Regions from separate parts of the Homo sapiens genome. Here region 2 is linked to region 1. Evidence: fine-mapped expression QTL. A gene starts in region 1. The other region holds a variant in brackets. All regions are shown on one strand. Distances are between the middles of the regions.

Region 1 (12,853 bases):
TGAGCCCATTCCTTTCAACAATGCCATCATTCCAGAGACAGTCTGCTCAATGGTACCAAAGGCAGACTGTGGATTAGGAGTCCCAGAAAAACCTTTACAGGAGAGAAAGATTCACAAATAGTGTGCAGGCACTTATTATTATAGGGTTTTCAGAAAGAGAAAGTTACTGAGTCGAAAGCTAAGCAGTTACCCTATTTGTATTCCCAAGAGGCTTTGTTTCAGGAGATGTAATGAACTCAGTTTCAAGGCCTGTCATCTGGGCACACACACACACACACACACAGGTAGAAGATGAGCCCAAAGAAGACTAATAATAATCTTTTTCATGGAAGTACTCAGCCTGTCCTACAATAGGCTTCTACTTCTCTCAGAAACACTTTTTTTTATTCTTAGCCATCACAACTCAACCTGAGAAAAAGCAGTTTACACTCAAGAGCATCTGAGCAGTGTGTCAGATACGAAACAGCAGCTGTCCGAGAAGAAGCTGCAATACAGCTTGATTCCACGGCACTTTTCCATTAGAGGTCTGCTCAAGAGGGAGAATAGGTCAGACTACAAGGTCAAGGGTACCCAACTATTACACAGCAACAAGCCATGGAGAGATTAACTCAAAGGAAATTTAATGACTACTGAACCAAGTCATAGCAGAGAAATATTTCACAAGGAACACGTAAGTACTCAATCTAAATTCAGAGTCCCTGTGAATATCATAGACACTGCAGCCTACAAACTTAAAGGATATTCAAGCATTGTTTGTTAATTCCACTCATTACAAAACAAAACAAAACAAAACAAAACATAAAAAGCAAAGTATTAGCATTCTCATCTTTTAGGTGAAGAAACTCTGGTAGGTCAAGTGAAAAGACTAAATCTTAAGTCCTAAGACTTTGGACAAATAATTTCTGCACAAGGGTAGGGCATCATATAAATCTTGATGTTTCTACAATAATTATGTTTTATCAAAAAAAATATGTGTATAGCTAGTACTTGGCAGACGTTAAAATGTCCTCACCATTTGACAAGCATTTTTCTGAATGACCTTGAAAGCAGACACCCAGATGTAGTAAGAAATAAACAAGACTCTTTCGCAGCCTTTAAAACCTCAGCCTTGAAAAACATTTGGATGCTCACAAAATCATCAATTCTGTTCCTTTCCTAGCAGAATTTAGCATTAAAAATGAAATCTTATGAGCCTTAGAGTCATGTATGCATATAAGCAGATAATGGCATGTGCTACTCAGTGAAATTGCTTCCAATGCGAGGGGCTTCACAATAGACTATGAAGCCATGAGAATTGATGCAGATATTGATGGAGGCCTTTTAACCTCACTGTGGCCTTTTTATTAGCTCTGACTCCCTCTTACCCTAATATCCCTCTAATGATACTTTTTAGACATTTATGCACTTGTGAATATATTCAGCCACCATATCCTTGCTATTTAATTTTGATATCACAGATATTCATGTTTTAGCTATACATATCACACGGGTTGGAAAGAATCCACAAAAGATGCTGTGTCAGAAAGATAAAGTCACATGTCTCTCAATAGTTGGTGGCCAAAGCTTACACTCATGAATCAGATGTGCTGCCCTGATGAACTCTGGAGATCTTATCACAGTTTTAGGGCCAATGATAAGCAAAATGAATCTCCCTAAAATGCAATTGGCATTTGATTGCCCTTATTTTAGTATTTTTCTTAAAAATGAACTTTGAATGCAAATACATTTTTATTTGCACATATTATTGAGATAATGTGTGATTAAATACCCCAATTAAGACACTTTGTTTTACATTTTCCAGAAATGCATACAATTAACATTTGATGTCATTTGGAAGAAGGATTCCAGCGGAAACAAAACCATATATGAGAGGAGGACTGATTATTAAACTCCCTCTTGATCCTTCAGTTGTTATTTTTATCAAGCTGCTCTTACAGATGCATCAGCCAGTCTGAAGGAAGCCAGATGTCATTGACCCATGAAAAGTATAAATCTTGTGCCCTAAGTCCAGCTGCAGATGAGCATGGCCATAAAGCCTTTTGGAGACAGAAATTGTGGTTAATTACTGAAGAAGAAAAGGCCACTTAATCAAAATGTTTTTTTAGAGATATTTGTTGTCTCTTTTCTAAAATGCTACATGCATCAAAATTCTCTATGGAAATTATCCAAGCTTAAAATCAATTCAGCCTGTAATATTCCCCAACTGGATATAGAACCAAACAGAATCTAGGAGTCAGATCAAACACCCAGGAAAACTCAGCTTTGATCTGTGCATCTTCTCCCAAGAGTACATATTCTGAGTATTAGTCTAGAGCAACAGTGATGAAATAGTCATTTGGAGTCTTCTCCTAAACCACAGTTCTCTTGCCAAAATAAAGGGAGTAATAAAGCCCATTCCTCATGTTCCTCAGGAGCACAGTGAGGATTAAATAATGTCTACCAAATGCCCTGGATACCATAACACTTTATACAAATGTTCATGACAATAATGATCAAAATCTTACCTATCAATGCACTTAGGTACACAATTATTAGAATTGTCTCACATTTTACTGTACATTGATATACTCAGCTTAGCTATTTTTCTAAATGACTATACAATAGTTATATTTAACATATATTACACATTTACCATGTAGACACTGTCCTAAGTGCTTTACATAAATTACTGTTTTAAATAAATTATCTTCTGATAAGGTTAGCTATTTTCCTGAATGACTATTTAATCATAGTGACTAACATTTGTTTCACATTAACCATGTGCCAGCCACCATGCTGAGTAATTTATGTACATTGTCATTTATATTTATTTATTCATTTATTTTTCAAATAAGATATAAAGAGAAATTTAACATTATAGATACTCAACACAATAAAGCCAGCCTGTAAAGACAAATGGCAATGTAATGATGAATGAATTGTAAATATAAACATATAAAAAAGGAGGTAAGTACATAAATCATTAAGCAAAAATGATTAGAAATGTATAGCGAACATGACACATTTGAGAACATGCATTATCATTTTAAGTTCTCACAAACTATTACATGGTTTAGGTGCTATTGTCATTCCCATTTAACAGATGATGAAGTGATGGTCAAATTAATTAACCACTTTTCCGAAGCTACACAATGTGTCAGTGGTGGACTCACTATTAAGGATCTAGTCTGTCTGCTTTGAAAGTTTGTGCTTTTGGCTAGTATGCCACTGCCAGCCATCTTCTTTTTGTCTTTCTGTTTTTTTGTTTTGTTTTGTTTTTTGTTTTTCTGAGTTTCTTTAGGCTATAACTTTTTCCATTAGAGTTCAAGATCCTTGAGGGTAGGGAATACTCGTGTATATGGCATATGCACCTGGTGCCCTGTACTCCTGATGCCTTGCATATGGTGCTTGGTCAATCAACTTAATTCATTCCTAAATATTTGAATCTGGGTTGATCATTTAAGAAGATCAGTACACTGGAGCTGTTGGTGTTTACCAGCATCTTCCTTCTCACAAAATGCAGGAGCCATATAATTCTATGACTGTTATTTCCTACTTATGACTGGCAACATTTAAAATAAGGTATGAATTCCTAAGTAAAATCAGTTTCTAATTAGCTCCACTATAAATTATGGCCCATAAGTTGCTAGATGAAGCAGCTAATATCAGAGGGCATATGATGTCCCTTGGTGACTGAGCAGAAAATTGAGACATTCTCACTTCTTCACACTACTCCTGAAAATTTTTACATATTTCCCAAGGCATCCAACTTATTTCTAAGTATCACCTTCCTTTTTCTGTTGAAATTGAGGTGAGATAGTGAACGTAAACTATTTATCATTGCCTTGTAAGTGCTCTAGTGAAATTGGATATTATTAGCTCTATTTAACTTATTACAAATATATTAATTGTGGGTTTAAGGCATTTAAGTTCCCATCTAAGCTACTGATAATAATTTGCTTGTACAACATATATACTTTAAATAAAAGAAAAAAAAGATATATACCTAACTACCCCAAGGTATACACGAGTTCATACATTTCACCAGTTAAATCCTACAGGAAACAAGCAAAGTATCCTTCTTTTACTCATTAAAATGTTTTATATTAAGATATACTTTCCAAATAATTCTACTAATGTGGGATGGTTTTTCCATTGCATCTTGGAATAAAAATATTATCTAGTGTTCCTGAATGTTAATAAGTGTTTCTATTAGTAATTTATTTTCTACCAAGTAACATCATTTAGAGAAGAAGTTATCCTCAGTTTTTTCAAACTGTCCTAGGTACCACCTATCCAAATATAACTAGTGCTTTGTATGTGCTTCTATTTTTCTTTTTACTTTTAAAATCCTTATTTTCCTATTTGGAAGTTGGAAGTTATGAAACTGGATGTCTATATCTCATTGTGTATAGCTCCAGGTGGAGCTGAAACAAGTTTTGATAGCTTTATTTTTAAAAAAGATTTTTCTTGAAATAAAATAGATATGTGTAACCTTTTGATGATTTCACTGACCTCTATGATAAGAGTCTGAAATAAACATCTACTACTGAGAAAGAAAGAGAGGCCCTTATATTATGAAATGACAATACTGAAAAAAAGTAACATGCTTAATATTTATATGGAGGGAAATGTTGATTGCCTTTACTAAGCAAGAGCTCCTGGTAGCTCTCATCCAAGATACCGCATGCATTCTGCAATTAGCCTCAATGAGGCTCCACATAGTTCTGATTTTTTTCTGGGTTAATTACTGCCTAAAGGAGTTATCTAGTCTACATGCACCTAAGTTTAGGAGCAAGTGTTTTTGGAAATAAATATTTATGAAAGGGTAATTGTGACATAGAAGTTTGGTAAGCTTTTAAATAATTGAATCAATGTCATTGTTAAAAAGATCTTGGAGATTGGGTTTGCATCACATCCATAATGAATATTCTGGATTTAATGTGAATTCATTCATAAATTTGATGTGTACTCGGTGCTTCAGAAATAAGACCCACCAGCAGGTGGCATTCTGAGGCAAAAATTCACTGAGTGCCACCAGACAGGGTCAATCATTATTGCCTTTTCTGAGTCTACCCTGAATCCATTACGCCTCTAAATTATAATTAATAGCAATAGCATTTTGGTTGTGTCTACTCAATCATAGGTAAATGAATTTACAACTTCAAACTTAAAGGGGAGATTATGAGAGTTTCAAAGCTCTGCCTAGATTACACCTCTTTCATTAGGAGCATATTTGTTATTTTGAAATGGATGTCTAAAGGAGATACATAGCTCAGACCATATTTTCAACAAGAAGAAAAGAAAAATGACAATCTCTTTCTTGCCACCTGTAGTTCTTTAACAGTGGCTACTTATTAGAATATAACCCTCTCCCTTCTCTCACCCCTATATTTATATTATGATAAATACAACCACATAAATACATTAGAAAGCTGTCAGTAGTGAAGGGAAAGAAGAGACAACACCTATACACTCATCTAGGAATAAAACTATATTACTCTAGCACAAAAGGAATAGGCTACCGACATGAGTTGTCCGTTTCTAAATGGCTTTGAAAACTTAGACATTCTATAAAAGAAAAAAAAAATTTCTTCTACCAACTCAACAAATAAGAAAGATCTCAGATCCATCTAAAAATCTAAGCAGTGCACTAGAGGAAGAAGGCTGATAAATGAAAGTTCAATTACATATTTTAGCGAGAACACAACCTCTACTGGAAAAAAAAATCAATATGAAAGAACCATCATAGCTGCTTACATTGAGGGTGTAATACGCAGGCTTGTTCCTCCTCTAGATGACCGGAATCCGGTGTTGAGTCGCCAGAAGCTGGCTCCCCATGGGTGGTAGCCAAGGATGTACCGCTCTCCGTGGTGCTGAAGTATAGAGCTGGTCAAGTGAGTTAAGTTGCAACGATGTGAAAGCGCGCTCCTCTGTTCTTTGTGTTGCAGTGGTAAAAACTCGCCTTCCGAGGCAGAACCGTGTTACCGTCCTTTTCCTAATCGGGGGGAAATTTCCCAGAGAACATGACGGAGAAGCATCTGTGTGAGAGTGGCATGCGGCGTGGTGATGGGTTGGTATAGTCCCCACCCCCTCTCCCCGACGTAGCTTGAAAGGGAGGTAGCAACTCTTTCTTCCTGCCATAGCTCCTCAGGATTTCTACCTGCCCTTTCCTCTGCCCCAGAATAGTACATCACACACACACACACACACACACACACACACACACACACACACACCTCGTTATATAAGGCAGCATGTTCTGACTTCTGAGGCAGAATATTCATTGGTTTAAACAAATGAGGAATGAGGAATGAGGAATGAGCTGGTTTCCTACCTGTTGTGTCTGTGTGTTTACAGAGGGAGGGGGTTAAGAAGAAAACTAAAACCAGAGAAGCCTAAAGAGCGATAGAAGTAGTTTTCTTCCGTAAGTCTCATCACCACACCACACTTTGTCTTCTGTGAGTGATGTATCTTCCAACTTTACTATTTTGGTTCATGATCTTTTAGCATTATCTAGGATCAGGAAGAGGTCAGTGGTGTAGAACAAGTCTCACATTAGTAACAAGACTAAAAGGGTTAGCTTTCATTTGCAACTTTCCATTTTTTGAAACGAAATTCTCAATCCAAAATACCATTTCCCCAACAGTTCCCACGCTCACCAATTGCTATGTAACCAAATGGTCTATGATTCTTAAACACTGAGGTACTTTAATGACATCATTGGAAAGAAACCGTCTTAACTGAAATATTGCCTGTGTATGAAAAACCACAGTTGCTTCTACAATCTACCTGGGTTACTTACCAATAAATCAGAGTGGTTATTTTCTGAAATCAACTCACAGCTTAATAACTGACACTCTGTAAAACTGTTGCTGTGTGCACTTGCAATACTTAGGGCTAAGGAGTTGCTTATAATGTATTGTACACATGACCATTCTAGTTTTACATCCAAATGAGATTGCATTGGTTTGTTAATATGCTACTAGTATTTTCTCTGAAGATAACATGATATGTGGGAAAAGACCTTGGGATTTTGATTCACTTATTAACTGTGTGACCTTAGACATAACACTTAACCTATTGAATCTCAGTCTTCTCATATGTGAATGGTTGGTAATAATAGGGTTTATAATGCCTTTTACCAATTGTCGTGGTGATAATTAATTGAAAAATCATGTACAAATAACTCCAAAGAGCTGGCATTTAAGGTGTGCATGATAAGTTTGAAAGTTCGTTTTAATTTTTTAAAAATTTGAGACAGGGTCTCACAGTGGTACAATCACGGATCACTGTAGCCTTGACCTCCCAGGCTCAAGTGATCCTCTTGCCTCACCCTCCACAGTGGCTGGGAATACAGGCACATACCATCAGACCTGGCTAATTTTTAATTTTTTAGTAGAGACCTTGTCCCACTATGTTGCCTAGGCTGGTGTCGAAATCCTGGGCTAAAGCTATCCTCCTGCCTCGACCTCACAAAGGGGTGGGATTACAGGCATAAGCCACAATACTCGACCCAGTTTGAATGTTCTTTCTCCTCTGCTTGCTCAATAGAAGTTAAGGTAGTTCTCTAGTTGTGGGCATGGTAGTGTGAACCTGTAGTCCCAGCTACTTGGGAGGCTGAGGAATAAGGATCACTTGAACCCAGGAGGCTGAGGTTGCAGTGAGCTGAGATCATGCCACTGCACTCCAGCCTGGGTGACAGAGTGAAATCCTGTCTTGAAAAGCAAGCAAACAAACAACAACAACAACAAAACCCTCCAAAAAGACTGGCAACAAATGCATTTTATTCTTATAAGCCTCCACGCAAGTTTTACAATATTAATAATTATGTTTCATTGGATAAAATACCATTCTAAAAAGAAATTTTCTAATATCAAGGCTTTCTTAAAAAAATTACAGGCTTGAAGGATACAGAAATTTTATTTTTTATTAGAATCAGAAACAAGTAGATTTAATGCATTTGAATAAAATGCTAATGAATTAAGAGCTCTTTAGTATTGCAATGAAGTGGAACAAAATATAAATGTGAAGCCAATAAAAGTGTCTTACACAACCACAAAGTTAGAAGATTATCTCTGACAAGTGATAATATCCTTTTGATTGGGATCCTCATCATCATGATTAGTGAAGTAGTGTAGAATGAGATAACTCTTAATTATACAATACTTTTAAAAGAATACTGGTTTATGGCTTTTAGTTAATGACGGAATTGAAGTCTCATTATATTCTGTTTTTAATAAACAGCCAAGAGTGTATTTTCATAAAACTCTGACATGAATAATGTCCTTGTTTTCAGTATTGATAAGCTCATTAAAAAATTAAACCATATTTCAGAAAGTTGTGCCAATGATGGTATGACAGTCAAATGTATATATATATATATATTTTATATCTCTCATACACACACACATATATATATGTATGAGAGAGAAAAGAAATGAGTTAATTGTTTTATAGATGTATTCATTAATTGAAGACAAGTCAGAGTCAGGCCAGACAGCTCTTCAAAAGTGATAAGATGACATTTTGCAAAGGATCCAATCTTCGGGATCCTTATAATTGGAGTACTTTATCATTTCCAGAGCATATCATACACAGATATTTGGTTCAATGGGGCAAATACTTGTAATCTGAAAAAATGTTGCATCCATATCAAATTATCATTTTCAATATATAAAACACAGAAGTAATTAGGACTTCACTATCAACAGTGAAAGTTCAGAAGGTGCTCAGCTTTTGGACTAGAGGATGTCTAAATTTCCTGCATAAGGACTTGAGTTTTGCATCTCCCAGTCTCAACCCAACATAGGCTCACAGTAGAATTTAGTGGTTAAGAGTGTGTACAGCTTCTAGTAAAATTTTCTGTTTTAATTCCAAATTTCCTATTCCCCAAGTGTGTCCCTAAGTTTTATCACCTGTGAGATGAAAGTAACAACAGTTTCTCACTTGTAGAATTATAGCGAAGATAAAATGAGACAACACACATGAAGAGCTTACAGCAGAGCCTGGCACATAGAGCTCAGCCTATGTCAGCTTTCACTATTGCTTAACAACTCACCCTGTGACTGAACAGTGAACATACTATTGATCTGTGGTTCTCAGACTTTGTGTGCTCCAGTATCGCCTAACTAGCCTGTTAAAAATATAAACATACAAATTTCTCGTTCCCTAGAAAAATAAGCACTTTATCTCCTTAAGAACCTAAAGTGATTCTGATGCAGATGATTCATAAATCACACTTTTGGGAAACACTGTTATTGTCTATTGAATGACTAGGTCGTTTTAGAAACCAAAGCCATGAATATGAAGGTTTATTTCAAATAAATGAATCTTTTGGGAGACTCATTCTCCCTTTTCTCCCCTCTCAGAATGTTCCTTAAGTCTATGCAACTTTGTGTGGTTATTAGTCAGGTCTGGCTCTTTCTCCTAGATAGAAATATATTGAGCAGACTTCTTAGGCATTAGATTTAAGGAATTAATGTAAATCAGTTTCCATAGAAAAATTCTGGCTGAAATTGCTAGAAGCCACTATACTGAACCCACTTAAAAAGTAGATCTCTCTCATTTTGATTAATGACAGCATCACCGTAAATCTTCTTTAGAGTGAGCACAAAATCTGGGGAAAAATTTTGTGCTGTAGACTGTTCTCAAGTAATGAAAAATTGTGTTTTTATTTACAAACAGGGAGTGACTGGAAATAGCACTATGTCTCAAAGTGATGATAAGAATGATGCCAATTTAATTCTATTCCTATTTATGTGTTTTATGAAAAATTATTCATCTTTCAGTTTGGGCTATAACTGCAGATTTCAATGGTTATGCTTTTACAGGATTTATGTAAGCTATAATTGGCTTGTAACCTATTAAAGGTTTCTTACAAAAGCAAACTGAAACCCATATGAAATATTTATTGATTGCTATTGTTTAAATGTCTCCTCCAAAACTCATGTTGAAATTTAATTATCATTGTAATAGTATTAAGAGGTGGGACCTTTAAGAGGTGATTCATTTACGAGAGCTTCACCTTCATAAATGGATTAACACCTTTATGCTGGGAGTGGGTTACTGGGGGAGTCCAGCTTCCTTCTCTGTCTCTTGAGCTTACTCTTTTGCCTTTCACCAAGGGACAATCCTTTGCATGTGGTGCCTTCTGCCCTGTTATGACACAGTAAAAAAATCCCTCACCAGATGTGGCCCTTGATCTTGGACTTCACAGCCTTCAGAATTATTAGCCAAATAAATCTCTTTTCTTTATAGATTACCTAGTCTGTGGTATTCTATTACAGCAGCAGAAAACAGACTAAGACATTTGTATTCTGCCTTTAAAAAAAGATTTAAGATGGTGTGGTCAGAATGGAAATCCTCCTTCAATGAAAGAAGTGTGCAGGAATGGCAGTCAGTGGATAGCCTCCAGCTGCCATATCCTTCAGGGTGTGCCTCAGGTACAAAGAGCCACCTTTCCCAGGGCCACACCCTTTGCAGGATAGACTGTATTTTGTGACTGAGCAAGGTGAGAGAATACAGACCATTTCAGGAACATGCTTACGTGCAATACTCTTTCCAGGGCTTGCTGCTATATTGCCCACATTATCATAGCTTGATTTCTTCCTCTCCCCAATACTGCTTCCTCCCTTTTCCTTTTAAAAATGTTGAACCTTAATGAATATTTTTCACCTTAAACTCTATATCAGTGTCTACTTCTGGAAAACCTAACCTGTATTAATTGATATCAGGAATGGATTGAGCAACTAGGTGATAAAATGGGATGTTTGAGCTGGATTGCCACCATGTAGTTGGCGCTGACCCTATCACTGGTCATAAATGGAGCACAGATGGCCCATGAAACAAGGTGATGGTCCATTTAAGTTTTCACCTGTGGTGAATTGGGATGTTATGCTTGTGGAAGAGAATGCATTGGTAAGTGGAAAATATGCATTTGAAACTCACCAGAGAAATAATAATGACAAGCACAATGGCTTTGGATAGCTATCATTAAATGCCACCGATATTCGGCAGAAAGATGAGTAGCTGAAGATGCGTAATAGGCAATAGAATTCCAGGTGTAAAAGCTGGAGGACATCTTGGTTGCAAAGAAGCTCTTAAAAACTCTGTTGGGAGAATATAGAAAGTCAAAGTCTCAGCCTGAGAAATCATATTCAGAGTGACTGAATTTCACAGATAACCAAATGGCCATCTAAGGATGGTCTGTCATGTCAGATTATCACCATGTTTAAGAAAGTCCAGAACTCTAAAGAGATAGAGATATCTACATGATGTCTCAGAAAATTTTGTCTCCCAGTTGACCCTCAATCACTAGAGTGATTGGTTTTAAGACCCCCAAATATACAAAATCTGTTCGTACTCAAATCCTGCAGTCATCTCCATGGAATCTGCATATAGGAAGTCAGCCCTTCATATATGTGGGCTTCACATCCTCTGAATACTGTATTTTTGAGCTATGTTTTGTTGAAGAAAATCTATAATACATATAAGTGGACCCACATAGTTAGAATCTGTGTTGTTCAAGGGTCAACTGTACATCTGAACCCTCTGAGCCTGAAGACATGGTCCATCCATCCATATTAAAAGCTAGCAGCTGTCACCTCGTGGAATACATTATATAGGTCTCACCCCCATGAGGTACACATGCCTGCCCAGAGTCTATACTACATTCCTTCCTGCCCACAAGGCCTGTAACTAAGGTTAAGTTGTACTCAGGGTCTGAGTTGACATTAATATCCATAGAGCCATAATATAGCAGAGGATGTTCTAAACCTGATTAAGTCAGGAAAGGGACAATTTCCCAAAAATGCTATAGGAACTAGCCAACATGTATTGGAAAAAGCCAGGGGAGTATATTTGGAATGGGATTCTGAGGATGCTTGACCAAGGGGCCCTGTAATACAAATTAGATGGTGAAGAGTTTATTGACTTGGTAATGTTCTCTTCAATTGTAGGATTTCACATCTTGGCACGGTTCTGGGGGATGGTGTGAACTTACTCCTAGAATGGTCTCTGGAAACATAAAAAAGGAATAGTTCACATCACACAAAGCTGGAGTGACATAATTTTCATGGCAAAAGATGAAGGAAAGAAATGAAAAGTTTATAGATGTGAGGATGCTAGAATCAATATATCCCGTTTGGCTAGAAGGTCCCTGAGGTGATCATGTTCATGGGGCCCAGAGGACACATCTTTTTACCAAAGGCATCATAAATGCACTGACTAAATGTCCACCAGGATCACTGAAATTTTCATTCATGGTTCTCTTTAAGCCAAGGTTGATGGTGGGATAGTCTGTTACAGAACTTACTCACTGGTAACAATGGGCATCAGAGAACCCTGAAAAAATAGAGGCCAGGTGGAGGTGCTTGAACATCCTAAACCAGACTGTTGCAATTATTGTAATGACGAGCAAGATTGGAGGGTAAGGAAACATGACTCTCAGAGTTATGAAAATGGTTAATAGAATATAGCATCCCTAGGGACAAAAAGAGGCAACTGACTAGGATATTATTCAGTTTGTGCCTGTAGAAAAATCAGGAAAGGATGACTGGCAGGCTGAGGATGTCATTCTGATAAAAAGTTGTAATTCCACACCATAAATATGTATTACTAAATGAAAAGGCCAATCTGAAAAGGCTGTATACTGTATGATTCCAACTATATGACATTCTGGAAAGGGGAGAGCTATGCAGATAGTAAAAATATCAGTGGTTGCTAGCAGTTAGGGGAAGGGAGAAATTAATAGGAACATCACAGAGGATTTTTAGGGCAGTAAAACTGCTCTATATGATACTATAATTAAAAGTAGATACAGGTCAGGCGCAGTGGCTCACACCTTTAATCCCAGCACTTTGGGAAGCTGAGG
Region 2 (12,853 bases), 110 kb before region 1:
GGACAAGTGTCAGGAAGTGCTTAGCCCCATTGATCCTGGCTGCTGTGCTGGGATTCCACAAGGCTGAAAACCTGACTATCCTCCTTTCAAGACTTTGGCCAAGAGCTTGGTGAAGGCAAGGAGAAGTTCTGGAACTGAGTGGGTCTGGGGCAGGACATGGACTGGAAACACTTCTGTGTTTCAGGCACTTTATGTAAACATCCTCATTTATCCATAAAGGTATTTGTGAATAAGGTGGGAAACCTTATTTTCATTTTATAGACGAGGACACAGAGGCTCAGATAAATCAAATGACTTAAGTTCACCGGCCAGTATATGCCTGTGTCAGGAAGTATATTCAGGTCTTCCACACTCTTCCACTAGACCCTTCTCGGTGCTACCGATGGCTGGCCCTCCAGGAGACTATCTGGCATCCTGCCCCGTGCCCATCCCCAGGGGAGGAGCTTTGGATCTTTGTGGACACAGGCTTAGAGAGCTCCATCACCACTTCCACGGTGGGGGATGTGCATGCCATTGTGTTACTCTGCCTGCTTTCTGGAGCACCCCTAGCAGCTACTTCTGGACCCCAATTTCAGTGTCTTGCCTCATGCTCAGGCTGCATGCCTCCTGCCTCTCTCACATGGGCTTTCCTTCCTGCTGCAGAGGCACATGATGCTGCAGGACTTGCTGGGTGTCCACACACAAGACCTGGCTTGCCCAGCCAGGCATGGAGAGCAGTGACCTGCAACCACTCGCAGACCTGCCTCCCATGCTGTGTGGATATGGCTTCCCCAGGGCTTCCCTGGAAGTGTAGGTGAGTTAACGTCCTATGGAGTGACTAATGAGAGACAGCAGATGGGACTGATCTGGATGATAAATTCTCTATTCTCAGCCTGATGGGCTATTCTGAGATGTGGTCTTTCCAGATAGTCCCCCTGGAGAGGTCCATCATGCCCATGCTGTGTATTCTGGTGGGCAGTGGCCAGGGAGCTGCCTGGATTTGCTTTCCCCATCTTCACTTCACACACCTCTCATGCAGCAGCACTTTGTACTTGCTTCCCCTCTTCCCATTCTTCACTTTCCTTTTTCCTTCAGTTTTATTTCCCTTAGATTGCAACTCCCTCACTCTAATAAAGTGTTAGCATGCAACTTTTACCCAGAGTTCTGTTTTCTAGGCAACACAGGCTAAGACAATAATAACAGTAAGAATAATTTTTTTTACCACATATTGAGTTTACTACGTGAGTTACATCATCTCACTGAATCCTTGCACAATCTCTATGAAGAAGGTACTATTATTATCACCATTTTAAAAACAAGAAAATGAAGTATCAGAGATGTTAACCCATTTCCCCTTGGCCCCAAGAATACTCGCCAGCATGCTTGCTGCTGCATTGTTTACCCTGAGATAACTCATGGATTGCAGTCCTAACTTTACCCCCAAAGTTTACCACCACAAAATATCTCGCTTTTATTATTATTTTCACATCACTCTAGTCTATCAACTTTGGAAACAAAAGACAACATTATATTAATGGCATTCTGTTTTTAGTAGTGGTCTTTCCATTTATGAAATTTCCATTTATGAAATAATTCCTGATTGCTGAGAATGTCAAATCCTAGAAAACGTAGCATTCCTACATGTGATTTTTTTTTTTCTAAATGGGAACATGCTCTGGTCACACGAAATGTAAGTGGCAAAGTGAGGATTTAACTCAACTCATCTGTTCAACTCCAGAACCTGAACTCTAAACCACCCTTGAATAAAGTTGCCTTTAACCTTGAGAGATAGCAAGGAAACAGCAGTCTCTGCAAGAAGCCACCTTCAGGAGACTCCCAAGGATTCCCAGGAAGCCCAGGGAGAACCTCAGGGGAAAGCTCTCAGATACTCACGTTGTAAACGCTGGGTTGTATTTGGCACCTCGGTAGTAAGAGTACAGGTTGAACATCCCAATCATGAAGGCCACAAATACCATGATGAAAATGACCATGAACTTGAAGATATCTTTCACAGTTCTCCCTAGCGAGATCTGCAGGGGCCCAAAACTCTCGTTGGCTGGCAGAATGTATGCAATGCGAGAGAAGCTCAGCACGACGGCTATCGCGTAGAGCCCTTCCGATATGATCTGAGGGTCTGAAGGCCACCACTTGTCCCTGGCTAAAAGAAAACAATCTGGGTTACTCACGAGGCCACAGGATCTATTCTAGAAGAGAAACCAGTTAGGCATCTTTAGAGGTCTCCAACTGCATCATTTGCCATTCTTGTCCTTGTCCTTAAATTAATCCCAATATCCAGAAGTTGCCACCCTCCCTCTTGGAATGTGCTGGACCATCTGCCTGGAACACTCTTCTCTCACTTCGAAGTATGATTCATTCCTAATCCTCCTCTAAGACTCTGCTCAGGCATCACCTCTTTCAGGAAGCCTTCTGTGATCCCCCTTACCCCCACCACGGGCTGGGCAGGTTCCCAGTTTCCGTCTGTGCTCTCATTGTATCCTGTACACCCTCCATGTCTTGGCACTCACCAGGCCACTTGCTATTCTGTCTCCCTCACCAGTGTTTAGCTCCATGCTCAGGAGCTGTCCCACTCACTGGGGAGGCAGCGCGAGGAATAAGATGGGCAAGAGCATGGACTTGGGAGTCAGACATCCCTGAGGCTGAATGTGGCCCATCCACCTACTGGCCACATGACTCTGAGAGACAACTAACTAACCTTTTGAGCTTTATTTTCCTCCTCTCTAAATTATGGATAATATCCATTTCACAGGACTGTGGAGAGGATGAAATGAAATCATACATGTAAAGTGCTCAGCACAGGGTCTGGCACACAGCAGGTACAGATAAGTGTTTGTCAAATGACTGAATAGACTTTTAACCACAAGTTTAGACCAGACACAGGTCAGAACAAATAAGCTCACATGGGGACCAGGAATCTAAAGGATCTTGCCTGAAAAAATACTCTTGGGTTTTGTTCCTCAGGTACTGTGTGCTGGGATATTGCTCCTTGATTAAGCTAAGGCCCCAAAGTGGTGACCAGTCAGGCAGGTTTGCCACGACAGCCCTGTTCCAGGTAGGCAAGGGTCCTAGGACTGATCCTGAGCTGGGAAGGCTCTGCTTGTGGTCACTGTGACCACAAGGGCCTGAGCTCTCCTATGGGTATTTCTGCTGCAGAGCAAACCTGCAAAGTGTTCCTATTGCAGTTCTAATGGTACAAGGAGCAGCACCTATCACGAATCAGCTGTCTATTACATGTCAGTGATTCTCAAGTGAGGGCAGCACTTCTCTCATGGAGGATGTGTGGCGGTGTCTCTGGTTGTCAAAGTGACTGAATAGGAGTACTACTGGGATGCTAATGTCCTGCAATGCTCCAGACAGATCTGTACAATGAAAACTGCCCTGCTGGAAAAGCTAATAGTGTCCCTATTGAGAAATGCTGAGTGAAATATTAATTGAGAAGCATTGAGAAACCTAAATTAGCACTTACACTTACATTAGCTGTAATTTTCACAACAGCCCTGTAGAGTAGATATCATTATTGCCATTTTTAAGATTGGATTTAGGGTATGGGGTCCTTTTCAGAGACCGGTAAATGCAGATAGCAAGGATATTACATAGCAATTCGTGGCATTCCAAGGGAGATTGAAGAGGAAGGCTTTTATTCTTTATTTTCAAAACTAGACTCTGTTAAATAATTATAATAATAGAGAGCAGTAAGAAACCTTTAGTAAAGGAAGCCAGGCCACAAAGTTTCATGGAGTGATTCTAAATTGCATTTGGAAATATAATAACATTACAGATTCTATGTTCTCATCAAGGTCATACCTCAAAAAACCATGAAAGACTAGTAAGCAGAATAAATTACATGTTTTCCAATATATCTGTCATCTTCTATGGATAAATATTTGGATAAGATAAAATAAGACATAACTTCTCCCGTTAAACAGAAGGCAAAAAGGAATTCTTTTTTTCTGCGGCCTCTAGCTCACCATCTTAAACCTCAGTCACAATAACAAGACACTCTTATAATCTACTCAGATAGATTTAGCTGTTGTCAGATCCTGGTGACTAGGTCAGGACTTATATTGAAAAATATTATATTTCAACTGACTTGTAAAGAGTTGTGATGAGTGTAGAATGAACAGCACTGTGATGATTTGGACAAAGGGGTTTTCTCCTTAGAGCTATTTCCAAGAGAAAAATTGCCCTATCACAACCTGAAAAATTGTTATCTGCGCATTTGGTGCTGTAGAGGTTGGAAGGAGCCACCGTCCAGCTGGCCACAAGAGGGCTCTCCTGCCCTGTAACTGGAGCACAAGTTAAGCCAGAAATCCAAAGGATTTCCAAGGGCACAGCGTGAACCGCAAATACAAGAGCAATAACGTACTATGCTTTGGGTTGGGTGAGACCTTAATACAACCCATAAAGCAACAGAAGTCAGAAGTGGACAATACTGCAGCCTGAATCCTGGCATTAAGAAAAGTACATAATGCAGCATCAATATTCTCTCTTCCTTCCTTGATGAACCCTAACAAGACAGAGGATAATATCCAAGCTATTTTGCTTTAAGAAAGTCTGAATTTGCCAAACCCCAAAATGGCAGAGGGTGGGTGGGTGGATGACTTGTAATACTACAAGACTCTCCATTTCTCAATGGAGATTTCCCTACCACATTTACATGTAACATAATCTACACTGAAAACGGGCAGTTACTCAACTTTTGCGTTAAGCGAACAACCCTCTGCAGATCATTGTTGTACCTGACCACAGAATCATTGTTGTATCTTACCATAAAGATTCTGTGGTCCCGGAGCCATCTGGCTTCATGTAACAGGGACATTCAACACTCAATCCCTTCAAGATGTTGTAGCTACCATTAGCAATTGCCTACTAAGTGTCCAGCTGCTTTTTACTGTTAACAAGTATCTACTGTTCCTTCAACTTTCAACATCTTTCTGTTTCAGTACAGAAATTACAGTGTTTGAACAAGAAAATGACCCAAAAGGTAGTAGTAAGACATAACTTATTTTAAAATAAGTAAGCAGATAATAGCTGCTACCATTAAGTGAGCATTTACTATTTTCACAGCAGAGTGCAAAGCGCTTCACATACACTATTTTATTCAGCCCTCAAAACAAACTTTTTGATGTAGGTATTATTATCTCTGTTTTACATATGAGAAAAAAGAGCTCAGAAAAGTTAAGTAAACAAGATCTCACAGTAAACTACCGAACTAGGATTTGAATCCAGGTCTCTTCTACTCCAAAGCTTGGGGACATAACCACTATGCTATTCAGCATGATTTTCAAATCATGTCAGGCCAGGATTCCCTGCTATACAAGGCAATCCTGTATTTTCTGGAAACATTATAAGCCCTGCTATAAAAACCTGATTCTTCATGTTTAAAATAGGGACAAAAGAAGGACCCTTTTTTGCCGGGCTATTTGCAAGAATTAGAATTGTGTGTATAAAATGTCTACACAATTCCTGGCACATAGTAGGTTCTCAATAAACATATGTTATAACTATTATTAGTATTCCTAAAGTCTCAATCTACTACATCAAACTGTAAGCCTTTGCATTTTGCAAGAATTAAGGTAATTAAGGTATCTTCTAAGAATGTATCTTGCCACCAAGCAATAACTAGGAAAGCAGGATTTATTTTTGCACAAAACACAGGGATCCAATATAGAAGGAAAATTCTTCCGCATATACATATCCCTTTAGC[G/C]CTCCTGGATGCACATCAGAAACAAGACGTTTCTTAAAAACAAACAAACTACAGAAATGTTCCCAAGGGCCTTTCAGAAACAAATTCACCCTTAACACAAAAAGATTCATTTCTCAAAGTCACTAATTCCACGTTCTATTCTGCTGGCTACACTTCCAGGACCAAGGGTTTTTTTGAGGTGGAAAGGATGCTCTGCACTGACAGTGGAACTGCCAAAGTCGGCTGTGTTACAAATCATGGGCCACTTGATTACAAATAGCGTTACAAGTTCACCAGCCACAGTGAAGCACCAGGCCCACGTCCCGGAAGCGCCAAAATGGAGTAGGGGAAGCACTCTCCGACTCACCGTAGGTGAAGTATGCCACTTCCGGCGGAAGCGAGACATTGTGCAGCGTGTCGTCCTGCACGTGCTGGTCCACGTACAGCTGTGCCTCCGTGGCCTTCAGGAAGGCCATGAAGCGTGCTGTGAAGGAGGCCACGAAGATGGACAGCATCCCGAAATCTAGCAGGTTCCACAAGTGCAGCACGTACTCCCGTGGCCCCTCCTCCCAGATTTCCTTGCATTCGGACCAAATCATTCCTGTGGGAGAAGGAGAAGGCCAGGCTCACTTTTCGTTTCTCTTGGCATTTGTGACCGCATGAGGTCATGGAGGGAACCAGAGTACAAATGTAAATATCAGCTCTTTGGAGCTGGGACCGTCGATAGCCAGAGGCAGACAGAAACGTGTTTTCAAAGGCAGATTTAGACCCAGGAGACTCAGAGACTTGGCCTTGTGCTTACGAACACACTGTCTCTGCAAGTGAGGAGAGAGTTTTCATTCGTTGATAGATTCTTGGAGGGAATATAGGAGAAATACAGTTGCTGACATTTATACACTTTAAGAACTTTAAGAACTTAAAGAATCAATTAGTCCTAAATTAAATATAGGGAAACTGAGGTCCAGGAATTGTAAAGGGCTTTCTGAAGGTCCCCCCACTCCATGCCCCAAATTCTACAGAAATGCCCCAAGAACCTAGAACTATGGTTTTTTTTGGACATAGAACCCAGTTTTTTGTTTTGTTTTGTTTTGTTTTTAAATCCCAGATTAGAATGCTTCTGTATTTCTGTGTCATGAGCATTAATTTAGGGTTATTAGATTTTTTCTTACTCTTTCATAACTTATTGGATTTTAAAGATATATGTCCTCATTGTTACATACTAAACAATATAGAAGTATATAAACAAAATGTTACTAGTTTCCCCAGCCTTCCTCTAAGCCAGCAGCCCTTTTGGCACCAGGGACCAGTTTCATGGAAGACAATTTAACACAGGGTGGGGTTGGAGTGGGGGTGGAGGGTGGGATAGTTTCCAGATGAAACTGTTCCACCTCAGATCATCAGCCATGAGATTCTCATAGGATGGCAACCTAGATCCCTCACATGCATAATTTACAATAGGGTTTAGGCTCCTATGAGAATCTAATGCCGCTGCTGATCTGACAGGAGCTGGAGCTCAGGAAGTAATGCTGGCTTGCCCACCGCTTACCTCCTGCTGTTCAGCTCGATTCCTAACAGGCCACAGACTGGTACCAGTTGGCGGCCCAGGGGTTGGGGACCGCTGCTCTAAGCCATCCCTGTGAGGTAGCCTGAGCTAATAGTTGATGAGTATCCTTCTAGACCTGTACTGTCCAATACCATAGCCACCAATCATATGTGGATACTGAGCACTTGAAATGTGTCTAGTTTGAGATGTGCTGTAAATGTAAGGTACACACCAGATTTCAAACACTTACTATGAAAAAAGAATGTAAAGTATCTCATTAATAATTTTTTGCATCAGTTACATGTTGCAGTGATTAATATTTTGGATATGATAGGTTAAGTATGTTGTTAATTTCACCTATTTGTCTTTATAATATGGCTTTTAGAACATTTAAAATTATATAGCTCATGGTTGTTGCTTGCCCTGTATTTCTATTGAATAATGCTATTCTATACCTTCACATTTACTGATTACTAAATTATTACTATTTAAATTATTTTAAATTACCGGCATACCTTGTTTTATTGCACTTTGCTTTATTGTGCTTCACAGAGACTGTGTTTTTTTCAAATTAAAGGTTTGTGGCAACCTTGTGTTGGGAAAGTCTATTGATACCATTTTCCCAATAACGTGCTCACTTTTGGTCTCTATGTCATATTTTGGTAATTCTCACAATATTTCAAACCTTTTCATTATTATATTCATTATGGTTGGTCTGTGACCAGTGGTCTTTGTGATCTTTGATGTTACTATTGTAACTGATTGGGGGTATCATGAACCACTCCCATATAAGATGGCAAACTTAATCAATAAATGTTTTGTGTGTTCTGACTGCTCCACTGACCTGCTGTTTCCCTGTCTTTCCCTCCCCTCGGGCCTCCTATTCCCAGTATTTCAACAATATTGATATTAGGCCAATTAATAGTTCTACAATGGTTTCTAAGCTTTTAAGTGAAAGGAAGAGTTGCATTGCATTTCTCACTTTAAATCAAAAGCTACAAATGATTAAGGTTAGTGAGGAATGTGTATCAAAAGCTGAGATAGGCCAAAAGCTAGGCCTTTTGTGCCAGACATCTAAGTTCTGAATGCAAAGAACAAGTTACTGAAGGAAATTAAAAGTACTACTCCAGTGAACTCATGAGTGATTGATTAAACCAGCTATGGCATTCCCTTAAGCCAGTGCCCAAACCAGAGGAAGACCCTCACTCTCTTTAATTCTATGAAGTCTGAGAGAGGTGAGGAAGCTGCCAAAGAAAAGTTTGAAGCTAGCAGAGGTTCGTTCATAAGGTTTGAGGAAAGAAGCCATCTCCATAACATAAAAGTACAAGGTGAAGCACCAAGTGCTGATGCAGAAGCTGCAACAAGTTATCAGAAGATCTAGCTAAGATAATTGATAACAGTGGCTACAGTAAACCACGGATTTTTGATGTAGATTAAACAGCTTTATCTTGAAAGAAGATGCCATTTAGAACTTTCAGAGCTATAGAGTAGACATCAGTGCCTGGTTTCAAAGCTGTGTAGGGCAGGCTGACTCTCTTGTTAGGGACTACTGCGGCTGGTGACTTTAAGTTGAAGCCAGTGTTCATGTACCATTCCAAACCTAGGGCCCTTAAGAATTATGCTAAATTGACTCTTCCTGTGCTCTATAAGTGAAACAAAAAAGCCTGGATGACAGCGTATCTGTTTACAGCATGGTATACTGAATATTTTAAGCCCACTGTTGAGACTTACTGCTCAGAAAAAATATATTTCTTTCACAATATTACTGCTCATGGACAATGCATGTGGTCACTTAAGAGCTCTGATCGAGATATACAGGAGATTAGCATTGTTCTCATGCCTGTTAACATAGTATCCATTTTGCAGCCTGTGGATCAAGGAGTAATTTTGACTTTCAAGTCTTATTATTTTAAAAAATACGTATCATAAGGCCATAGCTGCCATATATGATTATTCTTCTGATGGATCTGGGCAAAGTAAATTGAAACCTACTGGAAAGGATTTATCGTTTTAGATGCCATTCAGAACATTAGAGAATCATGGTAGGAGGTCAGAATATCAACATTAAATGGAAGAAGTTGATTCAAACCTTCACGGATAACTTTGAGGGGTTCAAGACTTTAGTAGAGGAAGTTACTGCAGATGTGATGGAAATAAGAGAACTAGAATTAGAAGTAGGGCCTAAGATGTGACTAAATTGCTGCAATTTCATGATAAAACTTCAATGGATGAGGAATTGTTTCTTATGGATGAGCAAAGAAAATAGTTTCTTCAGAGTCTACTGGTGAAGATGCCGTGAACATTGTTAAAATGATGACAAAGGATTTAAAATATTCTGTAAACTTAGTTGACAAAGCAGCAGCAAGGCTTGAGGGTATTGAGTTTAATTTTGAAAGAAGTTCTACTTTGGGTCAAATGCTATGAAACTGCATTGCATGCTACAGAGAGATCTTTAGTGAAAGGAAAAGTTAATTGATGCAGTAAACTTTATTGTCTTAAGAAATTGCCACGGCCACTTTAACCTTCAACAACTACCATTCTGATCAGTCAGTGGCCATCAACATTGAGCCAAGACCCTCCACCAGCAAAAAGATTATGCCTTGTTGAAGGCTCAGATGATTGTTAGCATTTTCTAGCAATAGAGTAATTTTAAAATTATGGTTCTCACTTTTTTTAGACATGATGCTGTTGCACGTTTAATAGACCACAGTATAGTGTAAATGCAACTTTTCTCTGCACTGGGAAACCAAAAATTTCCTGGGACTTTCTTTGTTGGGATACTTGTTTTGTTGTAGTGGTCTGAAACTGAACTTGCAATATCCTTGAGATATGCCTGTATTAAAATGTAACTATTCAGTTTCAATTTGAGCACCTACTATGTGCTAGGCACTGCCATATGTGTATATGTATTATCTTAAATCCTTGCAACAATCCTATAAAGTACGTTCTGTTATTATCCTATTTTTACAGCTAATGAGACAGTGGCTCAGATGGTTGTAATGTGCCCTGCTAGGAAGCAGGAGATCTGGAATTTGAACCCAGAAGGTCTGCCCCTAGAGTTCATGTTCTTGACTGCTATACTCTTCTGTCTCTCCAGGAAATAAAATTGGGCTCAAATCAGTTAGAAAAGACTCTTGAACATTTTATGTCATCAAAGAGTCTTACGACTACTCAGACCTGGGAGAGCTTTGTTGTGGAACAATGCTACACTTAACCTGTATATTTAGAGGGATTCACGTGGTAAAAGAATCACCAGCTGGTCAGTGAGTGAAACAATTCCAGCTCAGTGACCACACACTCCCTAGAGGCTAACACCGATAGCCTCTTTTGGCAGTCCCTCGGCCCTGTTCATCAGACATGATGGCCTGCTTTCTTTGGTACCTCCTGCCCCTCCCATTGCTCCTCCTCAGTTTTCTTTGCTGCTTTTCTAACTCTGCCCACTCCTTAAGGGCTGCAGCTTTCCAGGTTTTTGGCCGTTCCCATTCTTCCCTCTGACCTCAAGTTAGTGCATCTAGCCCTGAAACTTTGTCCTTCATTTCCTTGCATATGTCTCACAGATGAATATCTTCCTAATTTTCCTTAAGAACTTCAAAGCTGAATTCCCCCCATAGAGAGAGACTACTGTTAGTGGGTTAGTGGATGTCTTTCCAGTGCCAATATTACATCCCTCAAGCTGGCCTCCCCATCCCTCCCACCCTCACTGTGTCATATCCTTACCCAGTATTCCCACTCTTGCACCCCTGACTCTTCTGGCTGTCACCAAGGATCACTGCAGTTCTGCAGATCCTCCTCTAGTGGATGTCAGATCCATCTTGCTCTTTTAGTCTTCAACTCTATTCTCTGACCTCATAAAGTTTGGGTCATATCATGGTCACTTCTGTCTTCAGATACCTGTGGTGTATTTCTCATAATACCAAGATAAAGTCTAGACTCCAAAGCTAGGCTGTCATTCCTATGATATTCCACAGTTTTTATACACCCTGTACTCTAGCAAAGCAGGCCCACCTAACAGTCCTCCAGCAGTTCCACCCAACCATTTGCTTGTGTTTCTTCCTTTCTTTTTCCCAGACATTAACCCAAGCACACTCACAGATGCCTACATGATAACAATCGCCTTTGGGGGTCCAGATGCTGAAAAAGCCTGGTGTCATAGATGATGCTGGGAGTAGACAGTAATGAGGGCTCTTCCCTGGTCAGAGCCTGGCTGACTTGCTCACAGGCCCACATGTGGGCACATTCGAGTGATGAGCTGATCAGTTTTACTTGTCTGGGACTATGCCCAGGGACTATTTTAATCAGAAAATTTCCCTTTCTGTTGAAAATGGCCCATGAAATAAAAGGATTTAAAATGTTTTTCTTTCTTTTTTTTTTTTTTTGCGATGGAGTCTCACTCTGTCGCCCAGGCTGGAGTGCAGTGGTGCGATCTCAGCTCACTGCAACCCCCACCTCCTGGGTTCAAGCGATTCTTCTGCCTCAGCGTCCCGAGTAGCTGGGACTACAGGCACACGCCACCACACCTGGCTAATTTTTGTATTTTTAGTAGAGACGAGGTTTCACCATATTGGCCAGGCTGGTCTCAAACTCCTGACCTCGTGATCCTCCCACCTCGGCCTCCCAAAGTGCTGGGATTGCAGGCATGAGCCACCACTTCCGGCCTGAAATGTTTTCCTAAGGAGAAAAGTAATTTGAGAGCAGCTGTTTGGAGAAGAATCATGGCTTTATTTAATGAAGATCTGCATATTTGTATCAAATTGGAATCCCCACAATAGGAAATATTAAAAAAAATTGCAGGTAGGTTTACCCTACAATGGTAGGGCAGAACCAGCCCCCTCCTTTTTTGTTAACAAAGCTATGTCTCAAGTATACCGTATCAAAATTTTTGTGGTAATTCAGTGAAGTAATTTCTTAACACTGAAATACACTTTCATCTGTGACTGTGCAACCGGTATTTTTTAAATGGATTTTAAAAATAAATTTTTTAATGGATAGAAAAATAGTGTTTGTTGCTTTCCTCTACCCCCAAATTAAAAATCTCAACATCTGAGTGGAACTGCTTTTAGCATGGCACTAGGAGAGTCACAGGCTGTAACTTAAGAGTGATTGGCTTTAATTCAGGAAGCCCTGGGTTCAAGTTCTAGCTTGGCTACCTATTAGCAGTATGACTGTGGCTAAGTCCCTTGATTTGCTGTGGGTCTTAGATTCTATATTTTGAAATGAATGAATTTGGAGTTTGGAGGTAACTTCAAGTACTAAAAGCTCTATGAATCTGAAATGCAAATTATTTTCAGAAAACTAACTTTTCTGACCCATATAGTAGCTTCTCATTGGACATTGGGAATCACTTCCTCCATGGTCAAATGTCTGCATGAGTCTTCTTAGATTTAAATATTAATTCACCCAGATGAATTTAAATTATTCCAGGGCCATAAGTAAAAGTAACATGGGCCCAAGGGTTTGGGCAGCAGGAATGCTTAATGAAAAAGGAATTGTGTGAAATTAAGTATTTTAGTGAGTGAAATTGGCCCCCTGCCGCCACAGTGCCAAGGATAGTTCAGCGTTTTATATCCAAGCTGAGCCCCATGGCCTTTTGCCTCCAGCATGTCAATCACAGGAGTGTTTAGAGCCCA

Alleles and levels. Alleles are on the strand shown, and positions count from the first base shown. SD is a standard deviation of normalised expression in the study named.
With allele C in place of G in region 2, the expression in testis of the gene that starts at base 6,032 in region 1 is higher (small effect, 0.26 SD a copy in GTEx).

The links.
Region 2: its variant is fine-mapped to the expression of TRPC7 in testis (GTEx, PIP 0.90).

The regions. Positions count from the first base shown.
Region 1 is chr5:136,359,514-136,372,366 of GRCh38, forward strand. TRPC7 (transient receptor potential cation channel subfamily C member 7) reads right to left here and starts at 6,032. Exons shown (of 12, transcript NM_020389.3): 1 at 5,740-6,032. The coding sequence starts at 5,741.
Region 2 is chr5:136,245,599-136,258,451 of GRCh38, forward strand. TRPC7 (transient receptor potential cation channel subfamily C member 7) reads right to left here. Exons shown (of 12, transcript NM_020389.3): 6 at 6,051-6,284; 7 at 1,873-2,137. All of the region lies in intron 1 of TRPC7-AS2 (TRPC7 antisense RNA 2), which reads left to right. Among named protein-coding and RNA genes, the nearest start is that of TRPC7-AS2, 25 kb to the left of the region's middle. RefSeq lists an enhancer at 5,606-6,106 and a silencer at 5,789-5,989. The variant G/C (reference allele first, on the strand shown) is at 5,705.